2 separate regions of the Homo sapiens genome follow, and region 1 is linked to region 2. Evidence: fine-mapped QTL for protein levels in blood plasma. A gene starts in region 2. The other region holds a variant in brackets. All regions are shown on one strand. Distances are from middle to middle. Region 1 overlaps F13B (coagulation factor XIII B chain). Region 2 holds the start of F13B (coagulation factor XIII B chain).

The links. A credible set is the group of variants that fine-mapping cannot tell apart. PIP is the posterior inclusion probability: the model's chance that the variant is causal. The UK Biobank Pharma Proteomics Project read protein levels with antibody pairs (Olink). The fine-mapping took linkage between variants from a reference panel, not from the people measured, so its PIPs are less certain.
Region 1: its variant is the best candidate, but not a certain one, in a credible set for the plasma level of the F13B protein (UK Biobank, PIP 0.61).

The regions. Positions count from the first base shown.
Region 1 is chr1:197,035,127-197,045,568 of GRCh38, reverse strand. It overlaps F13B (coagulation factor XIII B chain), which reads left to right. Exons shown (of 12, transcript NM_001994.3): 11 at 4,834-5,047; 12 at 6,158-6,828. The coding sequence ends at 6,191. Among named protein-coding and RNA genes, the nearest start is that of F13B, 27 kb to the left of the region's middle. The variant C/G (reference allele first, on the strand shown) is at 5,191.
Region 2 is chr1:197,062,165-197,072,606 of GRCh38, reverse strand. It overlaps F13B (coagulation factor XIII B chain), which reads left to right and starts at 5,347. Exons shown (of 12, transcript NM_001994.3): 1 at 5,347-5,447; 2 at 9,550-9,750. The coding sequence starts at 5,384. RefSeq lists an enhancer at 3,040-4,239.

The DNA.
Region 1 (10,442 bases), 27 kb after region 2:
ATTCGGCTGTGAATCCATCTGGTCCTGGGCTTTTTTTGATTTGTAGGCTATTAATTATTGCCTCAATTTCAGACCCTGTTATTGGTCTATTCAGACATTCAACTTCTTTCTGGTTTAGTCTTGGAAGGGTGTATGTGTCCAGGAATTTGTCCATTTCTTCTAGATTTTCTAGTTTATTTGCATAGAGTGTTTATAGTATTCTCTGATGGTAGTTTGTATTTCTGTGGGATTGGTGGTGATATTCCCTTTATTATATTTTATTGCATCTATTTGATTCTTCTCTCTTTTCTTCTTTATTAGTCTTGCTCTCAGTCTATGTAGTTTGTTTATCTTTTTTAAAAAAACAGTTCCTGGATTCATTGATTTTTTTGAAGGGATTTTTTGTGTCTCTATTTCCTTCAGTTCTGCTCTGATCTTAGTTATTTCTTGCCTTCTGCTAGCGTTTGAATGTGTTTGCTCTTGCTTCTCTAGTTCTTTCATTGTGATGTTAGGGTGTCGATTTTAGATCTTTCCTGCATTCTCTTGTGGGCATTTAGTGCTATAAATTTCCCACTACACACTGCTTTAAATGTGTCCCAGAGATTCTGGTACGTAGTGTCTTTGTCCTTACTGGGTTCAAAGAACATCTTTATTTCTGCCTTCATTTCGTTATTTATCTAGTAGTCATTCAGGAGTAGGCTGTTCAGTTTCCATGTAGTTGTGCAGTTTTGAGTGAGTTTCTTAATCCTGAGTTCTAATTTGATTGCACTGTGGTCTGAGAGACAGTTTGTTGTGATTTCTGTTCTTTTTCATTTGCCAAAGAGTGTTTTACTTGCAGTTATGTGGTCAATTTTGGAATAAGTGCAGTGTGGTGCTGAGAAGAATGTATATTCTTTTGATTTGGAGTGGAGAGTTATGCAGATGTCCATTAGGTCTGCTTGGTCCAGAGCTGAGTTCAAGTCCTGGATATTCTTATTTACCTTCTGTCTCGTTGATCTGTCTAGTATTGACAGTGGGGTGTTAAAGTCTCCCATTATTATTGTGTGGGAGTCTAAATCTCTTTGCAGGTCTCTAAGGACTTGCTTTATTAACCTGGGTGCTCCTGAATTGGGTGCATATATATTTAGAATAGTTAGTTCTTCTTGTTGAATTGATCCCTTTACCATTATGTAATGGCCTTCTTTGTCTCTTTTGATCTTTGTTGGTTTAAAGTCTGTTTTATCAGAGACTAGGATTGTAACCCCTGCTCAGCAATAGTAGACGACCCTCCCCCCATAACGCTGTCGTGTCACAGGTTGATCTCAGACTGCTGAGCTAGCAGTGAGCAAGGCTCCATGGGCGTGGAAACTGCTGAGCCAGGCAAGGGAGGGTATCTCCTGGTCTGTCGGTGGCTAAGACCTTGGGAAAAGCACAGTATTTGGTCAGGAGTGTACCATTTCTCACTGTGCTGCCCAGGCTGGAGTTCCTTAGAAACAAATCAGAAACAAATCTCTCCCTCTCTCTCTTTCTCTCTCTCTCTCTATATATATATAAATATATATATATATGAGTTAGTTCCAAGATGGCCGAATAGGAACAGCTCCGGTCTGCAGCTCCCAGGGAGATCAGTGCAACACAATGAGACTCTCTTTGTACATTTTGTTCTTCAAGTTAGTAGCATTCCTTGAACCTTGATGTACTTGATATCCTTCATGGGTTTTAGAAATGTTTGGCTAATATCTTTTAAAATGTACATTTCTCACCTCTTCTGTGATGCCATATTACATATATTACATCTTTTTGCTATGCCATTGTCTCTTTAAATCTATATTTTCTCTCATTTTCTTCTTGTTTCACTGTAGTAATTTTTTGGTAATTTTCTCATTGTATCATTTCTTTGTTTCTATTTGGTAATTTTCTTCTAGTTTAACAATCCTCTCTTTAGATGTATCCAATCTGCTTTAAACTCATCTTTTGAGTTCTCAATTTCAGTTATCATCTTTGCATTTCTATTTTATATTTTCTTTTTGTAGATTTGAGTTATCTGATGAAAGATCCTAGCTTAACATCAACTTCTTGAACATATAATTCATACTTTTTATTAAGGCTTGTCTGCAAACTCCAATATCTGGATCTATTTTTTAGCCCCAAATTCTTGATATTTTTGTTAACAGTTGATTGAATTCCAAATATTATACGTGGAAAATTTCAGGATGTTTGGATGATGTCAGCTTACTCCAAAGAAGACTCATCTCATCCTCTGGCTGATGATTAGTGTAGAGGCAGTTGGTTTTAATACAATTAGAAATAAAGCTTTCTCTATGTTTGTTTTCAGACCTCTGTTTGCCTTTTCTCACAGACTGTAACTCTCCAGGGCTCTTTACAGAGGGTTTGTTGTGTGTATTAAAGCTTTTTCTCCTTGACTGTCTCTGATATTACTGGGAGACTGCCAAATGCCCACTGTAACTTTTTATTTACTTTCTGCTTGGCTTCTCATCCTATGCCTCTATACAAGTCAAGGATAAGCAGTACCTTAGGGAAAAGCTAGTGCAGAGCCTCAAACTCATATCTCTACACTTCCTATCCTTCTAAATTCTTTATTCTTCAAGTCCTGGCTGCTTTGGTTTACCGAAATTCTCATTTTTCTATCTTCAACTCCATGAGATTTTCAGAAGTTCTGCTGGCTGTATGCCTAAGCTTACCATTCTCTATCATCTAACCTCTCAGGTCAGACTTAGAGTCAACAAACACCTCAAGAGAAAAAAATGGCACATAGAATTTTTTTTTTTTTTTAGACAGTCTCCTTTTGTTGCCCAGGCTGGAGTGCAGTGGTGCGATCCCTGCTCACTGCAACCTCCACCTTCTAGGTTCAAGAGATTCTTCTGCCTCAGCTTTCCCGAGTAGCTGGGATTACAGGTGCATGCCACCATGCCCGGCTATTTTTTTTTTTTTTTTGTAGAGATGGGGTTTCACCATGTTGGCCAGGCTGGTCTCAAACTCCTGACCTCAGATGATCCGCCCGCCTTGGCCTCCCAAAGTGCTGGGATTACAGGTGTGAGTCACCACGCCCAGCCTCACATAGATGTTGAACTCACCTGAATACATTTTTTCCAGAACCTTACTTCCTTGACTAAGTTCCTTGGAGGTTTTCTGATACCTCGAAATGCTTCCTGTTTTTCAGATTTTCTGGTTCTTAATAGAAGTGCTGGTTTGATATAATCTCCTCTGTCATAGCTGAAAGTTAAAGGTCCATGAATCAACTTTTAAATTTATTTTAATTTAAATCTCATGTTCTGTAGAACAGTGACATCGTAAATTATAGTGCTATTCGACTTCATTTTCACAACTATTTTGTAATGAGTGTAATAATTCTTGTTCATTTTCATCACCTGTAGCACTTCCAGCATAATGTTTGACACATAGGCATTTAATAAGTAGTTGTTGAAGAAAGTAACTGAACACAGTGCTCTCAGCTGCGGTTTCACTTTCTGTGGTTTCAGTTACCTGCTATAAACTGCAGTCTGAAAACGTTAAATTGAAAATTTCAGAAATAAACAACTTATAAATTTTAAATTATGCACTTAGTAGTATAATAAAATTTCATGCCATTCCATCCTTCCTGCCCCAGATATGCTAAAAAGAAGCTGTAAAGTGCTTCCTTTAAGTGAAAGGGCGGAAATTCTTAACTTAAAAAGAAAGGAAAAATAAATGTATGCTGAGGTTGCTAAGATCCATGGTAACAATGAGTCTTCTGTCTATGAAAGTGTGAAGAAGGAAAAAGAAATCCATGCTAGTTTCGTTGTTGCACCTCAAACTGCAAAAGTTACAAGCCACAGTGTATAATAAATGTTTAGTTGAGGTGGAAGAGGCATTAAATTTGTGGGCAGAAGACATGAACAGAAACATGTTCCAAAAGAATGACAACAGGGTTTAGCATTATCTGCGGTTTCAGGCATGCACTGGGGCTCTTGAAATGTATCCCCTGTAGGCAATCAGGGAGGGGCATACTGTAAGTAAGTTTGTTAATGTACTACAGGTATATGATTGATATGCCATATTAGCAACTCTGGACCTTTTTACCTGTCTCAGAAGTTATTCCTTAATGCTAGGTCATCCAGGAGACAAATAAGGACATAAGAAATCCCATTTTCTGAAATAATTTGATATTTGATATTTTAGAAATATTAATGTTTTTATTCTGTAAAAAAAATCGAAGAGGTTTTTTTGTGTATTTTAATACATACTTTACCATTCTCTTTGGTTTACGATACATGGGAAAGGACACAACTATACTTTGTATGCTTAGAATTTAAAACGTCTTAATCCAGTCTTGATATTTCTTAACTAGAAATTTGAAAGAGAAGTAACTGTCAACCATTTTGGATGGCATGAGGTTATAAAGCTTGGGTCAGTGTTGAGAATCTACATTTCCATAAAATGTTATTTATACAGCAATTAATAATTTGTCTCATGAGAATTTTATTTGAACTTTCTGAAGAAGGAAAAGGGAAAAGAGCATGATATCAATGACCATTAGTAACTGTCAATGCTTCCCCCCAAATACCTTTTTGTTTGTTTGCTATCTTTGAAAAAGCTAATGACATAAAACTAAAATACCTTTTAGTTTTTAAAACTGGAAGAAAATACCTTTTCTCCAAATCCAGGACCACAGAGAGAAATGGCTCACTGTTTTCTGTGAGATTTGAACATATTTTCTGACTCAAATATTAATTCTGATTAACTGACTTGCTGCTCTTAGGCCTGAGAATTTTAAGGTCCTCATGAGTAGGCAACACAACGATTCCTGTTCTTACCAAGATGTAACAAGATAGTTTTCTTCTTTTTCTTTCTTTTTTTTTAAATTGTTGTTCCCAGAGCCATGCACATTATCTTTTACTGAAATGGAAAAGAATAATTTACTTCTGAAATGGGATTTTGACAATAGACCACACATTTTGCATGGTGAATATATTGAGTTTATTTGTAGAGGAGATACTTATCCAGCTGAATTATATATTACTGGATCTATACTTAGAATGCAATGTGACAGAGGGCAGTTAAAATATCCAAGATGTATTCCAAGACAAAGGTAAGAAGTTTTTTTTTTTTGGTCAGATTATTTTTTTTGGTCAGATTGTTATTCAACATTTCAGAAATGTTATGTTCTATACCACTCATACTTTATGGCAATTGCAAAGAAAAAATAATAATATTTTCTTCATTTTTTTTACA[C/G]CAAACAAACAACTGGAAGTGGTAATCAATTCAACAGGCCTTCTGAATTGTCTGAAGTGAAAGCAACGTTTGCCATTTGATATTTGTGACACTTTGGCAAATGGAAAAATAAACCAATTTATACGTGCAATATTTCAATGTGCAAAAATTAACCTATATGTTCTGTGATAAGGACAAAAATCACACTTTCTCCTACTTCTCAATATAAGTTCAAGCACTACTAATAAAGGTTGGAAAATGTGGTATTTATTTTCAGGACCACATTTTTGTGTAACTTTTGGAAATTACATACTAAAGTGTTTCCTCATATGACAGTTTAAAAAATATATCCTCTGCTACTTACAGGAAATAATTTAACAATTTTCTTAGAGAAATGTTAAAAAAGTATAATAAAATGATGTAAACCATTTTGTAGGATCACAATTTTAACCCTTTTTGAAGACACTATATATAAAAAATGGAAATTATATTTTTTGTTCAACTAAGAATATTAAAAATATAAGTAGTGGCAAAGTGCATGTGGTCCTGTTTTAAAAAATGCAAACAATGAACTGTATGAACTACATAAAGTCAGTTTTTTAGATGCTTTGACCACTCTAGTAAAAAAATATTTAAAAGACACACAATAGTGGGAAAAATTTTTATTTTTATTTCTAATTGTGGTAGCATCAGGGTGGAAAAAATTTTATATGCTATTTAAATGTTTTGGTACAGTATGAATTTCTCACTTTTAAGAGAAAAAGGTAAACACGTAGAAAATATTTAAAAAATCATGAGTAGTGTAGTAAATAATATTGCATTTTTAAAAGGGAACTGGTGGTATTATTTACTAAGTAAGATCATTTATTCTTATTAGTACTTAATAAAAACAATGACTCATTATATGAAAAATTGAAAGGCTGAGATTGTAATTAACACCTGACTGCAATTGATGCTTATTTCAAAAATCTCTCTTTTTCCCCTCAAGCACTCTGTCTTATCAAGAACCCTTAAGAACATAGAAATGAATGGCAGAAAGAGGAGTCATATTTCAATACATCATGAAATTCCTTATAAAATATAATTTTGAGGAAATAAGTTAAAAACTTCGGAGTTTTTCCTTGCTTAAATATTTGAATCTAAATTATTTGTGCTGAACATTTCGTTATTTATAAATGAAAACCAATAAATGTCTAATTTTTAGTTTGTATGATTTGATGTAGAACTTAATCTCTTTTGTATGTCTTCCATCTGTTACAAATTAATCTACACATCATATTTTCATTTCCTAATGCCCATTGACTAGACTATATAGTTGTTTTCAATATACTGTATGTGCAAAAATTTCACATTCACATTCGTCATCATCTTTATTAATATTAAGGCTTTTGTTACCCTTAATTCAAAGTTTATGTCACTATTAAAGGGCCAAACACACTAGAGATAAGAAACTATATGCTGTATTAGAGGATCTGCCTTATTAAAGGCAGAAGAGACTGCCCTTCAGACTTTCTAAATGTAAAAAACTTTTAAAATTAACTGTAATATTTGCTACAACGTTAATAACCAAATTGTTTATGAGGTGGTGTACTACCATATTTGAACATGTGCTCAAATATTGTTAAAGAGACACAATTAAAGAAAGAATGACCCTTGGAATTTTATTTAATTTTATTTATTTATTTATTTATTTATTTAGAGACAGAGTCTTGCTCTGTCGCCCAGGCTAGAGTGCAATGGCATGATCTTGGCTCACTGCAATTTTTGCCTCCCGTGTTCAAGCAATTCTCCTTCCTCAGCCTTCCAAGTAGCTGGGATTACAGGCGTGTACCACCACGCCCGCTACGGTTTTTTTTTTTTTTTTGTATTTTTAGTAGAGACAAGGTTTCACCATGTTGACCAGGCTGGCCTCGAACTCCTGACCTCATGTGATCCACCCGCCTTGGCCTCCCAGGACTCTTGGCATTTTTACATTTTACACTTTCAAGTCTTTTTTTATATCAAATAATTTTTGGAATTATGCAGACTACAAAATCTGAAATAAGAGAGTTCTACAAGCATCAAAAAATGAGTGTCAGTATTATCAAGGTCTGTTAGAGACATGAAACAGCAACACTGTCACTTTTTCATTTGAAGTGAGAGTTATACTTCTAATTATTTCAGCTCATTCATAAGCATATGTAATAGCACTAGTACCCAGATACTAGGACCCCGATTAGGATTGGTTGTTGGTATTAGAACGAGTTTTCCTTTCTAGAAACTACTCAGTTTTTCTAACTCAAGATCTTAGTTTCTCATTACGATGATATTCTCAAATGCCCAATGTACAATTCTCTACTGCTGGGTATGAAATAGCTTCTTTTGGAAATGATGCCACAGCTGACCTAACTCTGTGGATTAAATAAGTATTAATTCATTCAATGTTAAACATGTATATTTCAGAACTGTCCTTGAGTTCATATTCATTATTTTAATTAATCTCCTGTAGTAGGTTCCCACAGTGGATCTCATAAAAATGGAAATTTAATTAAAATTAAATATCAACAGAAAAGCATTAATCTTTTTAAATAAATTTCCCAATCTATCAATTAAATAACATTATTGAGCACCTGCTATATCCCAGGGAACATGCTGGGTAGTACAGGATTCAAAATGATTAAAATTCACCTCGTTATTTCAAAGAACTCACAAAGTAAAAAACTACTTACTTAGTAAAAGAGATAAACTTGTACTAGTGATTGCAGACTCAAAATGGGTGATGATTGTGGCTTATCTAGTGATATTTCTAGTGAACTGGAGATGGCATGCACTGTTTAACCTGGACAACTACTTCGCTCAAGGTGAATAATTGTCATGGGGGAATATTGTATCCAGTATTGCCATATGTTCTGATTTGTTAATTGTGAAATGCACTGATTTTTATATGTTGCGAGGAGATAAAAAATTATTTAGGCAGTGCAGCTCAAAGTAAACTCCACATGCTAAAGAAATAAAAATTTTGAAAAGTGCAACAGTGGAAGCATGTACGAAGTAAAGTGGTGGCACAAAGTAGGTAGTATTTAACCTTTTTTTTTTTTTGTATGAATGTGGTATAGGAAGCTTCTTGGAAAAAAGTTAAAGTAAATCTGAGGTTTACAAAACTAGAAAACACACTTCAAGTAGAAGGAATGGCATTTGCAAAGTCAAAGCTCATACTCTATGCTAGGCATTACACCGAGCACTGAAAATAAAACAATGAATAAGACACAGACTGTTTCTGCTCTTGTGGAGCTTGTCTCTCGGAGCGGAAGAAAGATATAAGCAAATCCTTACAAAATAAGGCATGGCAGCAAAGACACCATCTTTGTCAGTAAACACCAGATGATACTGCCTAGTACTGGGTGTTTAAAAAGTCTTCAGTGAGGAAGTGATATATAAGTGACATATAGGCTGAGATTGGATGGGAGAAATGATAAGAATTCATGTAGAGAAAGAACATGAAATACAGCAAAGAACATGACATTTCCAAGAAGCTAATAAAAACCCAGTATGGATTGAGTGGAAAGGAGTGAAGGACAGAGAGGAGTATGCGAAACTTGGAGAGGTTGGAGCCCTGATTGTGAAGGCCTTTGTAGGTCAAATTAAAGATTTTGGAAGTCACTAAATAGAATGCGATGCTTACTGGGAATTTTTAAAAGACATCACTGACTGTAATATGGAGAGACTGATCTGAAGGGCAAAAAGTGTGGGCAAAGAGAAATCACTGAGGAAAACGAGGCAGTCATCTGGCAAAGATAAGGTAGTCACTTACACCGGTGGCAGCAGCAGGATGGTACAAAATAGGCTGAAATAAGATATTTAGGATGTGACATCATTATAATGATAATTGATTAGATGTGGGGGACAGTGAGGCAGAGAAAAGAGTTCAGGAGGACTCCTAGGTTTTGGCTTGACTAAGTGGCTATCTAAATATGATAGGAAGAATGGCAAGGAGAAGCAATGGGAGGGAGTGGGGATTAGCATGAAGAGTTTTATTAATAATTTTGGAAATGTGCTTTTGAGGTATCTGTGAGATAGGAAAGTGAAAAGACTAAGTAAGCACTTGATTTTTTTTTTTTTTTTTTTTTTTTTGTAGTCAGAGTCTCGCTCTGTCACCCAGACAGAGCTGGAGTGCAGTGGCACCGTCTCAGCTCACTGTAACCTTCTCTTCCCAGGTTCAAGTGATTCTTGAGGAAGCACTTGATTCTTATGGTTGATGCTTTGATGAACCACCTAGATTTCCTTCAGAAACACAAAGACTTACTTTTCCAGCTACTGGGAGCTCTCACTTATCAGTTCCCTAAAAGGGGTTGCCTCAGCTTAAGGGAGCCTCTTTCCCTAAGGTCATAGCTTCTTCCCAGGTTGGCCTACACTAATGATTGATCAACAGGACTTATAAAGAAAAGGCTCCTCACCCAAACTCAGGACAGTTCTAAAGAGTAATTTCAGCTTCTGAGTTCCTCATAGTATTGACTGGGGCCTCTGGTTGAAATGACATTGCAACTCAACTTCTCCCTTTTGACTTCCTTCGTTTCCCTTCCCCAGGTGTGAAGCCCAAGAATACTCCCTGAAAGTCCTCTTGTCTGCTAATTTCCATCTCAAGGCTGACTTCCCTGGGTAGCTCAATCTGTAACAGTTACATAAGCCTGGGTATCAGAACAGAGCACTAGGCATAATTTGGAGTCATAAGTCAGTAGGTGTTTAATAAAACTAAGGTAATAGACGAGTTTTTCAGGGTGAAGATAGATGTAGGCCTACTTCAGGGCTTTGAGGCACCAAAGTTTAGTGTTTGGGAATAGGACAAGATACAACAAAGGAAACTGATAAGAAATGGCCAAACTATTTGAATGAAAAGCAGAAGAGATGGGGACTAAAAATGCTGTTTGGTTATTATTGATTACCTTGAAAGAAAGAGCATCCAGTAGGAAATTGAGACGAGAGTAGGATGAGGAATAAATGTAAGGTACAAAAAATCAGAAATATGAATGTAGTGAGCTTGCCAATATGTGTGACAGTGAATGGAGGGATAGAAATAAAGGAGGTCTGCCGGGCGCTGTGGCTCAAGCCTATAATCCCAGCACTTTGGGAGGCTGAGGCAGGTGGGTCATCTGAGGTCAGGAGTTCAAGACCAGCCTGACCAATATGGTGAAACCCTGTCTCTACTAAAAATACAAAAATTGGGCGTGGTAGTATGAGCCTGTAATCCCAGTTACTCAGGAAGCTGAGACAGAAGAATTGCTTGAGCTTAGGAGGCA
Region 2 (10,442 bases):
GCTGTATCCCAGAGGTTTTGATAGGTTATGTCACTATTGTCATTCAGTTCAAATAATTTTTTAATTTCCATCTTTCATTGTTGGCCCAATGATCATTCAGGAGCAGGTTATTTAATTTCCATGTATTTGCATGGTTTTGAAGATTCCTTTTGGAGTTAATTTTCACCTTATTCCACTGTGGTCTGAGAGAGTGTTTGACATAATTTTTTTTTTTAATTTATTGAGGCTCATTTTGTGGCCTATCATATGGTCTATCTTGTAGAAAGTTCCATGTGCTGATGAATAGAATGTATATTCTGTGGTTGTTGGGTAGAATCTTCTGTATATATCTGCTAAGTCCATTTGTCCCAGGGTATAGTTTAAATCCATTTTGTTGTTGTTGTTGTTGTTGACTTTCTGTCTTGGTGACATATCTAGTGCAGTGGTATATTGAAGTCCCCCACTAGTATTGTGTTGCTGTCTGTCTCATTTCTTAGGTCTAGTAGTAATTGTTTTATAAATTTGGGAGTTCCAGTGTTAGGTACATGTATAATTAAGATTGTGATATTTTCCTGTTGGACAAGGCCTTTTATCATTATATAATGTCCTTCTTTGTCTTTCTTAACTGCTGTTGCTTTGAAGTTTGTTTTGTCTGATATAAGAATAGCTACTCCTGCTCACTTTTGGTGTCCATTTGCATGGGGTGTCTTTTTTCACCCCTTTACCTTAAGTTTATGTGAGTCCATATGTGTTAGGTGAGTCTCTTAAAGGCAGCAGATAGTTGGTTGGTGAATTCTTACCCATTCTGCAATTCTGTATCTTTTAAGTGGAACATTTAGGCCATTTACATTCAACATTAGTATTGAAATGTGAGGTACCATTCCATTCATCATGCTATTTGTTGCCTGAATACCTTGATTTTATTTATTTAAGTATTTATTTATTTACTGTATTTTTGTTTTATGGGTCCTGTGAGGTTCATGCTTTAATGAAGCTCTGTTTTGTTGTGTTTCCAGGATTTGTTTCAAGATTTAGAGCTCTTTTCAGCAGTTCTTGTAGTGCTGGCTTGGTAGTGGCAAATTCTCTCAGCATTTGTTTGTCTAAAAAAGACTGTATCTTTCCTTCATTTATGAAGCCTAGCTTTTCTGGATACAAAATTCTTAGCTGATAATTATTTTTTTTAAGGAGGCTGAAGATAGGTCCCCAATCCCTTCTAGCTTATAGGATTTCTGCTTAGAAATCTGCTGTGAATCTGATAGGTTTTCTTTTGTATGTTACCTGGTGCTTTTGCCTCACAGCTCTTAAGATTCTTTCGTCTTGACTTCAGATAAACTGATGACTATGTGCCTAGGTGAAGATTTATTTATTTATTTATTTTGAGATGGTGTCTCGCTCTGCTGCCAGGCTGGAGTGCAGTGGCGCGATCTCAGCTCACTGCAACCTCTGCCTCCTGGCTTCAAGTGATTCTCTTGCCTCAGCCTCCTGAGTAGCTAGGACTACAGGCATGGCACCACGCCCAGCTAATTTTTGTATTTTTAGTAAAGATGGGGTTTCACCATGTTGGCCAAGACGGTCTTGATCTCTTGACCTCGTGATCTGCCCACCTCATCCTCCCAAAGTGTTGAGATTACAGGCATAAGCCACCACACTTAGCTGCAATAATCTTTTTTTTTTTTTTTTGAGATGGAGTCTTGCTCTGTCGCCAGGCTGGAGTGCAGTGGCACGATCTCAACTCACTGCAACCTCCACCTCTTGGGTTCAAGCAATTGCCGTGCATCAGCCTCCCACGTAGTTGGGGTTACAGGCATATGCCACCATGCCCAGCTAAATTTTTTTTTTTTTTTTGTATTTTAGTAGAGACAGGGTTTCACCATTTTGGCCAAGATGGTCTTGATTTCCTGACCTCATGATCCACCTCCCTCGGCCTCCCAAAGTGCTGGGATTACAGGCATGAGCCACTGTGCCCGGCCGTAATGATATTTTTATGATGATTTCCCAAGTGTTCTTTGAGCTTCTTGTGTATGGATGGCTAGATTTCTAGCAAGGCCAGGGAAGTTTTTTTTTTTCAATTATTTCCCTAAATATGTTTTCCAAATTTTCAGATTTTTCTTCTTCCTCAGGAACACCAATTATTCTTAGGTTTAGTCATTTAACATAATCCCAAACTTCTTGGAGGCTTTATTCACTTAAATTTTTTTCTTTGTCTTTTTTGGATTGGATTACTTCGAAAACCTTGTCTTCAAGCTCTGAAGTTCTTTCTTCTGCTTGTTTTATTATATTGCTGAGACTTTCCAGTACATTTTGCTTTTCTCTAAGTGTGTTCTTTATTTCTTGAAGTTGTGACTGTTTTTTATTTATGCTATCTATTTCACTGAAGATTTCTCCGCTCATATCTTGTGTCATTTTTTTGATATCCTTAAGTTGGATTTCACCTCTCTCTGGTGCCTCCTTGATTAGCTTAATAATCAAACTTCTGAATTCTTTTTCTGGCAGTTCAGGAATTTCTTCTTGGTTTGGATCCATTGCTGATGAGCTAGTGTGATTTTTGGGTGGTGTTAAAGAACCTTGTTTTGTCATAATACCAAAATTGTTTTTCTAGTTCCTTCTCTTTTGGGTAGGCTATGTCAGAGGGGAGATCTGGGGCTCAAGGCTGCTGTTCAGATTCTTTTGTCCCACGGGGTGCTCCCTTGATGTAGTATTCTCCCCCTTTTCCTAGGGATGTGACTTCCTGAGAGCCAAACTGTAGTGATTATTATTACTTTTCTGGATCTAGCCACCAGAAGGGCTACCAGGCTCTGGGCTGGTACTGGGGGTTGTCTGCATAGAGTCCTGTGATGTAAACTGTCTTCAGTTCTCTCAGTCATGGATACCAGCACCTGTTCCAGTAGAGGTGGCAGGGGAGTGAAAGGAACTCTGTGAGGGTCCTTAGTTGTAGTTGTTTGATGCACTAGTTTGGTGCTGGTTGGCCTCCTGCTGAGAGGTGAAGCCAGCTGGACTTCCTGGGTCGAATGGGGACTTGGAGAACTTTTCTGTCTAGCTAAAGGATTGTAAACACACCAATCAGCGCTCTGTGTCTAGCTAAAGGTTTGTAAATGCACCAATCAGCACTTTGTAAAAACAGACCAACCAGCACTCTGTAAAATGTGCCAATCAGCGGGATGTGGGCGGAGCCAAATAAGGGAATAAAAGCTGGCCACCCGAGCCAGCCGCAGCAACCTGGTCTGGTCCCCTTCCAGGCTGTGGAAACTTTGTTCTTTCGCTCTTTGCAATAAATCTTGCTGCTGCTCTCTTTTTGGGTCTGCACTACCTTTATGAGCTGTAACACTCACCGCGAAGGTCTGTGGCTTCACTCCTGAAGTCAGCAAGACCTCGAACCCACCAGGAGGAAGAAACAACTCCGGACGCACCATCTTTTAGAGCTGTAACACTCACTGTGAAGGTCTGCGGCTTCACTCCTGAAGTCAGCAAGACCAGGAACCCACCAGAAGGAAGAAACTCTGGACACATCTGAACATCAGAGGAACAAACTCCGGACACACCATCTTTAAAAACTGTAATGCTCACCGCAAGCGTCCGCAGCTTCATTCTTGAAGTCAGCAAGACCAAGAACCCATTGGAAGGAACCAATTCCAGACACACTGCCATGAGGTAGTGCTTTCATGAGAGCATCAGCTGTGGTATATAGGGGAGGATCAGGTGGTGGGTGGGACACTAGAACTTCCAAGAGAATATGACCTTTGTCTTCAGCTACCAGGGTGGGTAGGGAAGGACCATCAGGTGGGGGCAGGGTTAGGCATGTCTGAGCTCAGAGTCTTCTTGGGTGGGGCTTGTTGTGGCTCTGTGGGGAATGGGGGTGTGATTCCCAGGTTAATGGAGTTACCTTCCCAGGAGGATTATGGCTGCCTCTTCTGTGTCATGCAGGTTGTCAGGGAAGTGGGGGAAAGCTGGCAGTTACAGACCTCACCCAGCTCTCACACAACCCAACAAGCAAATCTCACTTCTACTGTGTTCCCCCAAAAAGCACCGAATTTGTTTCCAGGCAGTAGGGGAGCAGGATTGAGAACTTGCCCCAGGCTACTAGCCTCCCAGCTGAGAATGCAAGCCAGACTTTTGTGCCTCCCTACCTGTTAAGTCTGCACACCAGATTCACGCCCTTTCCTGAGTTCTGGACAGGAAAGTTTGTGTTCGGTTGGAATTGTTACTAAGTTCAGCTGGAGGTTTCCTTCTCCCTGTGGTCTTTTCCCAGTTCCTCCGGCAGCCCCTGTGAGACAAGTCAGAAATGGCTTCTCTGGGGACCCACAGAGACGATGGGGCTTTACCCTTTGCTTCCTCTACCCCTGTATTTCGCTCAGCTCTCTAAATTGTCTGAGCTCCAGGTAAGGTCAAATCCTTCTCCTGTGATCTAGACCTTCAGGTTCCCCAAGGGTGTGTGTTCAGGGGTGGACAATACCCCTTTCACACTTTTCACAGTTTGGGCATTCACAGTATGTGGGCTATTTTCTGGGTCATGCAGGAGCAATATACTTTCTTCAGAGGGTCTGTGGATTATCTTGGCTTTCCTGTTATATCCTTGCAGCAGTTCTTGGAGCAAAAGTTCACAATGCGAGTCTCCACATCCTGCTCTGTCCATCCAAGTGGGAGCTGCAAGTTAGTCCTGCCTCCTATCCACCATTTTTTCCTATTTTGTATTTTAAATTAAAACTCATTAGAATGTAAACTCCATGAGGGCAATAATTTTAATCCAGTTTTTTCACTGCTAAATACCTCAAAACTGTTACATGTGCTGCCATTATCATGGACGTTCTAAACATTTCTCATGAATGAATGTTGATATAGCACAGTGCTGATCTCACCACCTGCCACAAAGTAAAAACTCTCTAAATGTCAAACACTACTATTATAAGTAATACTATTCTATCATTGAGACAACTATGGTTCTGTATCTCTTTAAGGAGTGCAGTCTAGGCAACAACATATTTCAACATCAGGTATCTGTTATCTCATGTTCCTAAGTTCATCTTTTTACCTGATCAATATTAGTAAAGATCTATGGCCTCAAGTGAACTTTACTCTATGAATTTACAATTGGGAACTTAGGTTGAAAATTTACCTAGTATTATTTATTCTGCTGCTATAATTTATTATTTATTCTGCTGCTATTGTTGCCCTAATCAGTTATCATGCTCTTACTGGACTCTGACATGGTAAGTAATGTCAATTAATATAGTTGTGTTATTTTAACATTATTTCAAAATATTTTAAGTGAAATATAAGACTCGTTACAAAAGGACTTAGACAGAGGTTATAAATTATTAACTTTTTCCTCAAGAGAAGTATTGTGTACTTAATGACAAGTTCCTAGTGCTTAGAATTGTTAAAATCTTTGTGAAGCACACCACTGAAGATGAGGTTGAAAAACCTGACTTTTATCATCATATTGATAATCTCAGGAGAACTCTATGCAGAAGGTAAAATTAATTCTTAATATTCTTTATTCTCTAAAACATACAAATGGAGATTCTAATATTTATACAACTCAAGTTTTAATATACTCTTCTATTTTCATTATCAATTTTATAACATATTTTATAAATATAACTTTTTATAATATTTAGACCTTTTCCTTTGAGCAAAATTAGTAAAGTGTTCTTACAGTAGCATAAGTCAGAAAAGCAAAACAAAACAAAAACCCTTGTATCTCTAGGGGGCATAGGAGACCAGGATCTAAATACTTCGAAAAGGTTTTCAGGTTAACAATATGTCCATTTCGAAGTCACATGTTAACTTTAATTCTAAATTTATGCTAGAATCCATTCCTAATACTGACAAAACTTGTACAATTTTAATTCTGTTCATAAGGTGAGAGTTTAATGTGGGAAATTTGAAAAGGAAATAGCCATAAATATTTTTTACTTTTGAGACTTTGATTTTTATCACAATGAATTATTCATTTGTTGGAGACATTAAGTAGTGATTAGTAGGTGAACCATATAATTGCTTGTACAAACAGGGACACTTAGAGAGTAAAAGAGGGGCTCTATTAATAACTGTTTGGACAACACATGTAAATCAGGACTTTCCAAACAAACCAATACCTATGGACTCCCTATTAGAAAGCTTTATAGTCAGATTGCCCAATGTGTAAGATTAGTGTGCGAGTGGAAGCTAGGCAGTGTACATGGGTATGTTGTTCAGGAACATTATCAATATTATCAGGCCATAGGATGAAGAATCCAGGGAGGACACTTAGCATTAGCAAGAGTGAACATACAAAGAAGGAAGCTACAGCAATACAGCTTTTCTAAAATAAACATTTTTGGGAATTTGTTGAAATTAAATACATAAGTTTTAACTGTGTTTTAGTTGAATAGTTAACTATAAATTTTCTACCAAAACATCTATAATTAAAATTATAAAAGTGAAAGACACAGAATTAATCTTATTTTATACTTTTAATTCTATAATAGGATGATTTTTGCATGAATTTCTTTTGATTTTATTTTTCTGTCTAAATAGGGAAATACCAGCAGATATAATTGTCTGTTATCTATACCATAAAGACATTGCAATATTCTAGTTAATTTTCTAATTATTATAAGGTTATAATGCTATTTTACACAACAAAAAAAAAAGTAAGCTGCTTGAAGACCAAGACAATGATTTTATTTTTGCATGCTTCTCTCAACTCCCATTGTGCACTTCAGGGACAAGAATTGAATTAATTGTGTTTCTCATTTCATGGTATGCAAGTATTATTGGCCTATGAAAGGTCTCACTCTTGCTTTACTTACACATTTTATCCCCTTATTCCTAATCTTGAAGTCCATTTCCCCTGGGACCTACTACAATGTTTTAACATGTTACTCTAGCTCTCTCAACCACAAATAGCTCTGGAATGAATATTGTAATATAACCAACTTATCTTTCTGTAAGAATGTCATCAGTCTGTATTCACTCACAGATAGCATTATTGAGTCTATTCTTGTACTTGATTTCTGTAATGAGAGATTACTTTTGCAGAATGGCAGTTTTGAAGTATATCATCTCTGAGAGAGGATGTAAATTGTTGCTCCTCATCATTCTCACCAACACCTCATATTGTCCATTTTTGTACTGGTTGCTATATGGTTATTCATAAAGTGATATCCCATTTTTATTTATTTACCATTCTCTGATCAGTAGTAAGTGTGTCCATCGCTTCATGTACTTTTTTTAATATGTTCAGACATCTGTGATTTCCTGGTTTATATGTGATTAGTATATTCCTCACATTTCTCATTAATTTTTTGTCAGGAATTCATATTCTCCAAGGCATTCCAGCTACCTTAACAAATAATGTGCCTATCCTGGTGGTGGAGGGAGATGTCCCAGGACAGAGAGTCTTTAAAGCCACAACCTAGGATTGTTGTGCAGAGAATACTTTGCTGCCCCTCCCTGACAAGCAACTGTGCCCCTCAGGGAAATTTCTTGTGTATTCACCATTGCACTGCTATTTTGGAAGACTCTTTTTATTGTAAATTCCTTTGGTGCTTGGGTGTGAAAAAATGGTGAGAATAATTCTCAAGGAATGGGGACTATCCAGCCCATGTTTTTCTGTCTGCTCCATCAGATAGTGGAAGTTTTGTTGCTCATCATTCCACATCCATTTCCTTCAAACCTAGGCTAGCACTACTAGTATTTTATGTCTCATAGTAGCATTAAGGTATACAGTGATCAACCAAGGCATTGAAGCCGTAGTAATCACACTGGATCTAGGCCTTCTTCCATCCATGACTGCCCATGTTTCTTCCCACCACAGCTCCTAGGATTGTTCGAGCATTTCTTTCTTTTAAGTGTTTTTATGACTTTAAGATCTTCAACATAAAGATATATTTTTAAAATATATGTTTTATTTGGAGTATAACATATCCAGAAAAATGCAAAAATCACAGGATACACTTATATAGTTTTTACAAAATTTTACACCATCCAGATCAAGATATAGAACAGTGATAGTACCCCAGAAATATGATCCTTCTAAGGCACTAAACCCCAAAGGTAACCATTCTGACTTCTATTATCATGGATTAGTTTGTTTTCTTTTAAAAAGTTATGCAAATGTATACATTAATTCATATGTGATTGGCTTCTTTCACTCAATATTATGTTTATGAGATTCACCATTTGTTCATTTCTGTTGTTGGATAATATTCCATTGTATGCATAGTCTAAAATGTGTTTATCTTTTCTATTATTTATGGGCATTTAGATTGTTCCCAGTTTGGGACTATATGAATACTGCCACTATAAGCATTTTTTTCCATGTCTTTTGGTATACAAATATGTGCTTTTTTTATTGGGTAATATGGTTTGTACATGTTTTACCCCAATATATATTGCAAAGGTGTTCTCTCATAGAGTTTGGACTGATTTATACTTTCAGTTGTAGAAATATGCGAGTTCCAGTTTCTTCACTTCTTCACAATCATTGAGATAGCTTGTCTTTTTCATTTCAGCAGTTCTATTGGATATGCAGTAGTATCTCATGGTGGTTTAAATTTTCATTTCCCTGATGACTAGTAATGCTAAGTACCAGGTCTCTAACCATTTAAATATCCTATTTTGCCAAGTTCTTGCCAAGTATTGCTTTGTTTTACTTGGTTGTCTGTTTTTTCTTTTAATGCTATTTATTTCAAAATTTTTTATGAGTTAGCATATGTTAAGGAGAAACTTTACCTATTCCTGAACTGTACTGTCCAATACAGTGGCCATCAGCCACATATAGCTATTGGAGACAGTACTTAAAATGTCACTAGTTCAAGATCAGATATTCTGTAAGTATAAATATGTAGTGGATTTTAAAGAGTTAGAAAAAAAAAGAATGTAAAATATTTTCAATATATTGGGTTAAATAAAAACCTATTATTAAAACTAACTTCAATTGTTCCTTAGTATTTTTATGAATGTGACTATTAGAAATTTTTAAATTACATAAGTGACTTACAATACATATCTATTAGGAAGTGCAGGCAGGGTGGAGTGGTTCAAGTCTTGTAATCCTAGTGCTTTGGGAGGCCAAAGCAGAAGGATCCTTTGAGTCCAGGAGTTTGAGACCAGCGTGAGCAACAGAGTGAGACCCCTCATCTCTACAAAAAATAAAACAAAAATTAGCCAGATGTGGTGGCATGTGCCTGCAGTCCTAGCTACAGGAGAGGAGGCTTGCTTAAGCCCAGGAGCTCCTGGTGGCAGTGAGCTATATTTCAGCACTGCACTGAAGCTTGGATAACTGAGGAAGACTCTGTGTCTAGGAAGAAAAAAAAAAGTACTGTTCTACGAAGTTATGCAAAGCTTCCCTGAAAAAGTGGTCTGCTAAATTTTATCATGACTGTTGGATGTTTAAAGTCATTTGCAGATCAATTATGATAAAAGGACTGCTTGAGTTGTCACAAAAGTACCTTAAAAATTTAAGTAAGAAAAATAAGTACTAGTTGAAGTGTCTCTAAAAACTTTTAGTTTGTATTGTCACCTGATTACAAATTTATGTTTTTAGATTTGTTTTTCCATTTTCAGCTTGACATTTACTCATTTCAGAGAAACCCTGTGGTTTTCCTCATGTGGAAAATGGAAGAATTGCCCAATATTACTATACTTTTAAAAGCTTTTACTTTCCAATGAGCATAGACAAAAAATTGTCATTTTTCTGCTTGGCTGGTTATACCACTGAAAGTGGAAGACAAGAAGAGCAAACCACGTGTACAACAGAAGGCTGGTCTCCAGAGCCAAGGTGCTTCAGTAAGTCAGCTGGATATGTCACTCAATGTTTCAATACTCAAAGAAATTTGTATATAAAAATAGGGGTCCAATAAAAATGGAAAGCGGTTAAACCTTTTAGTAGATAAGAACAAAATCACTAGCAATCTGTCTTTCTACAAAATGAAGGCATAATTTGAAATCCAGTAAATAATGCTTTTACATTAAAATGTTATTTTCTGTATCTGTTTTTAATAATACTCTGTTGAAGGGAATAGGGTAATAACTGAAATTATCATATTGCAAGGCAAAGAGAGGTAATTTACTTTAAGTAACAAGAAACTTATTTTGATAATTAAGCATAAGATGCCAGAAAAATGCTTGAAACTCTGGCCTCTGGAAGGGCAAGATTGCTACTCTAATGCTTTATCATTTGTAAGACTCATCTCTCTTCATGTGCCAACTTCTCTCATGATACCCATTGAAAAATGTGTTTTTCAATTTTGAATTGAAAGTTTGAGTTCAAAGTTGTGAGAAGGTAATCTAATTGACTCATTTCATTATTTTATATCAGGCTACACTATCATCAAACTATCAATGATCTTCCACTAGGGCAGGTGACCCAGAGTAAGGGGCTTTGGTTGAGCCAGTTTCGTTTAAAAGAGGATGTTGAATATGGCTATTGTGGTTGATATATCTAGTAAACCTATCTAGAAGTAGATGTGGTAGGGGTA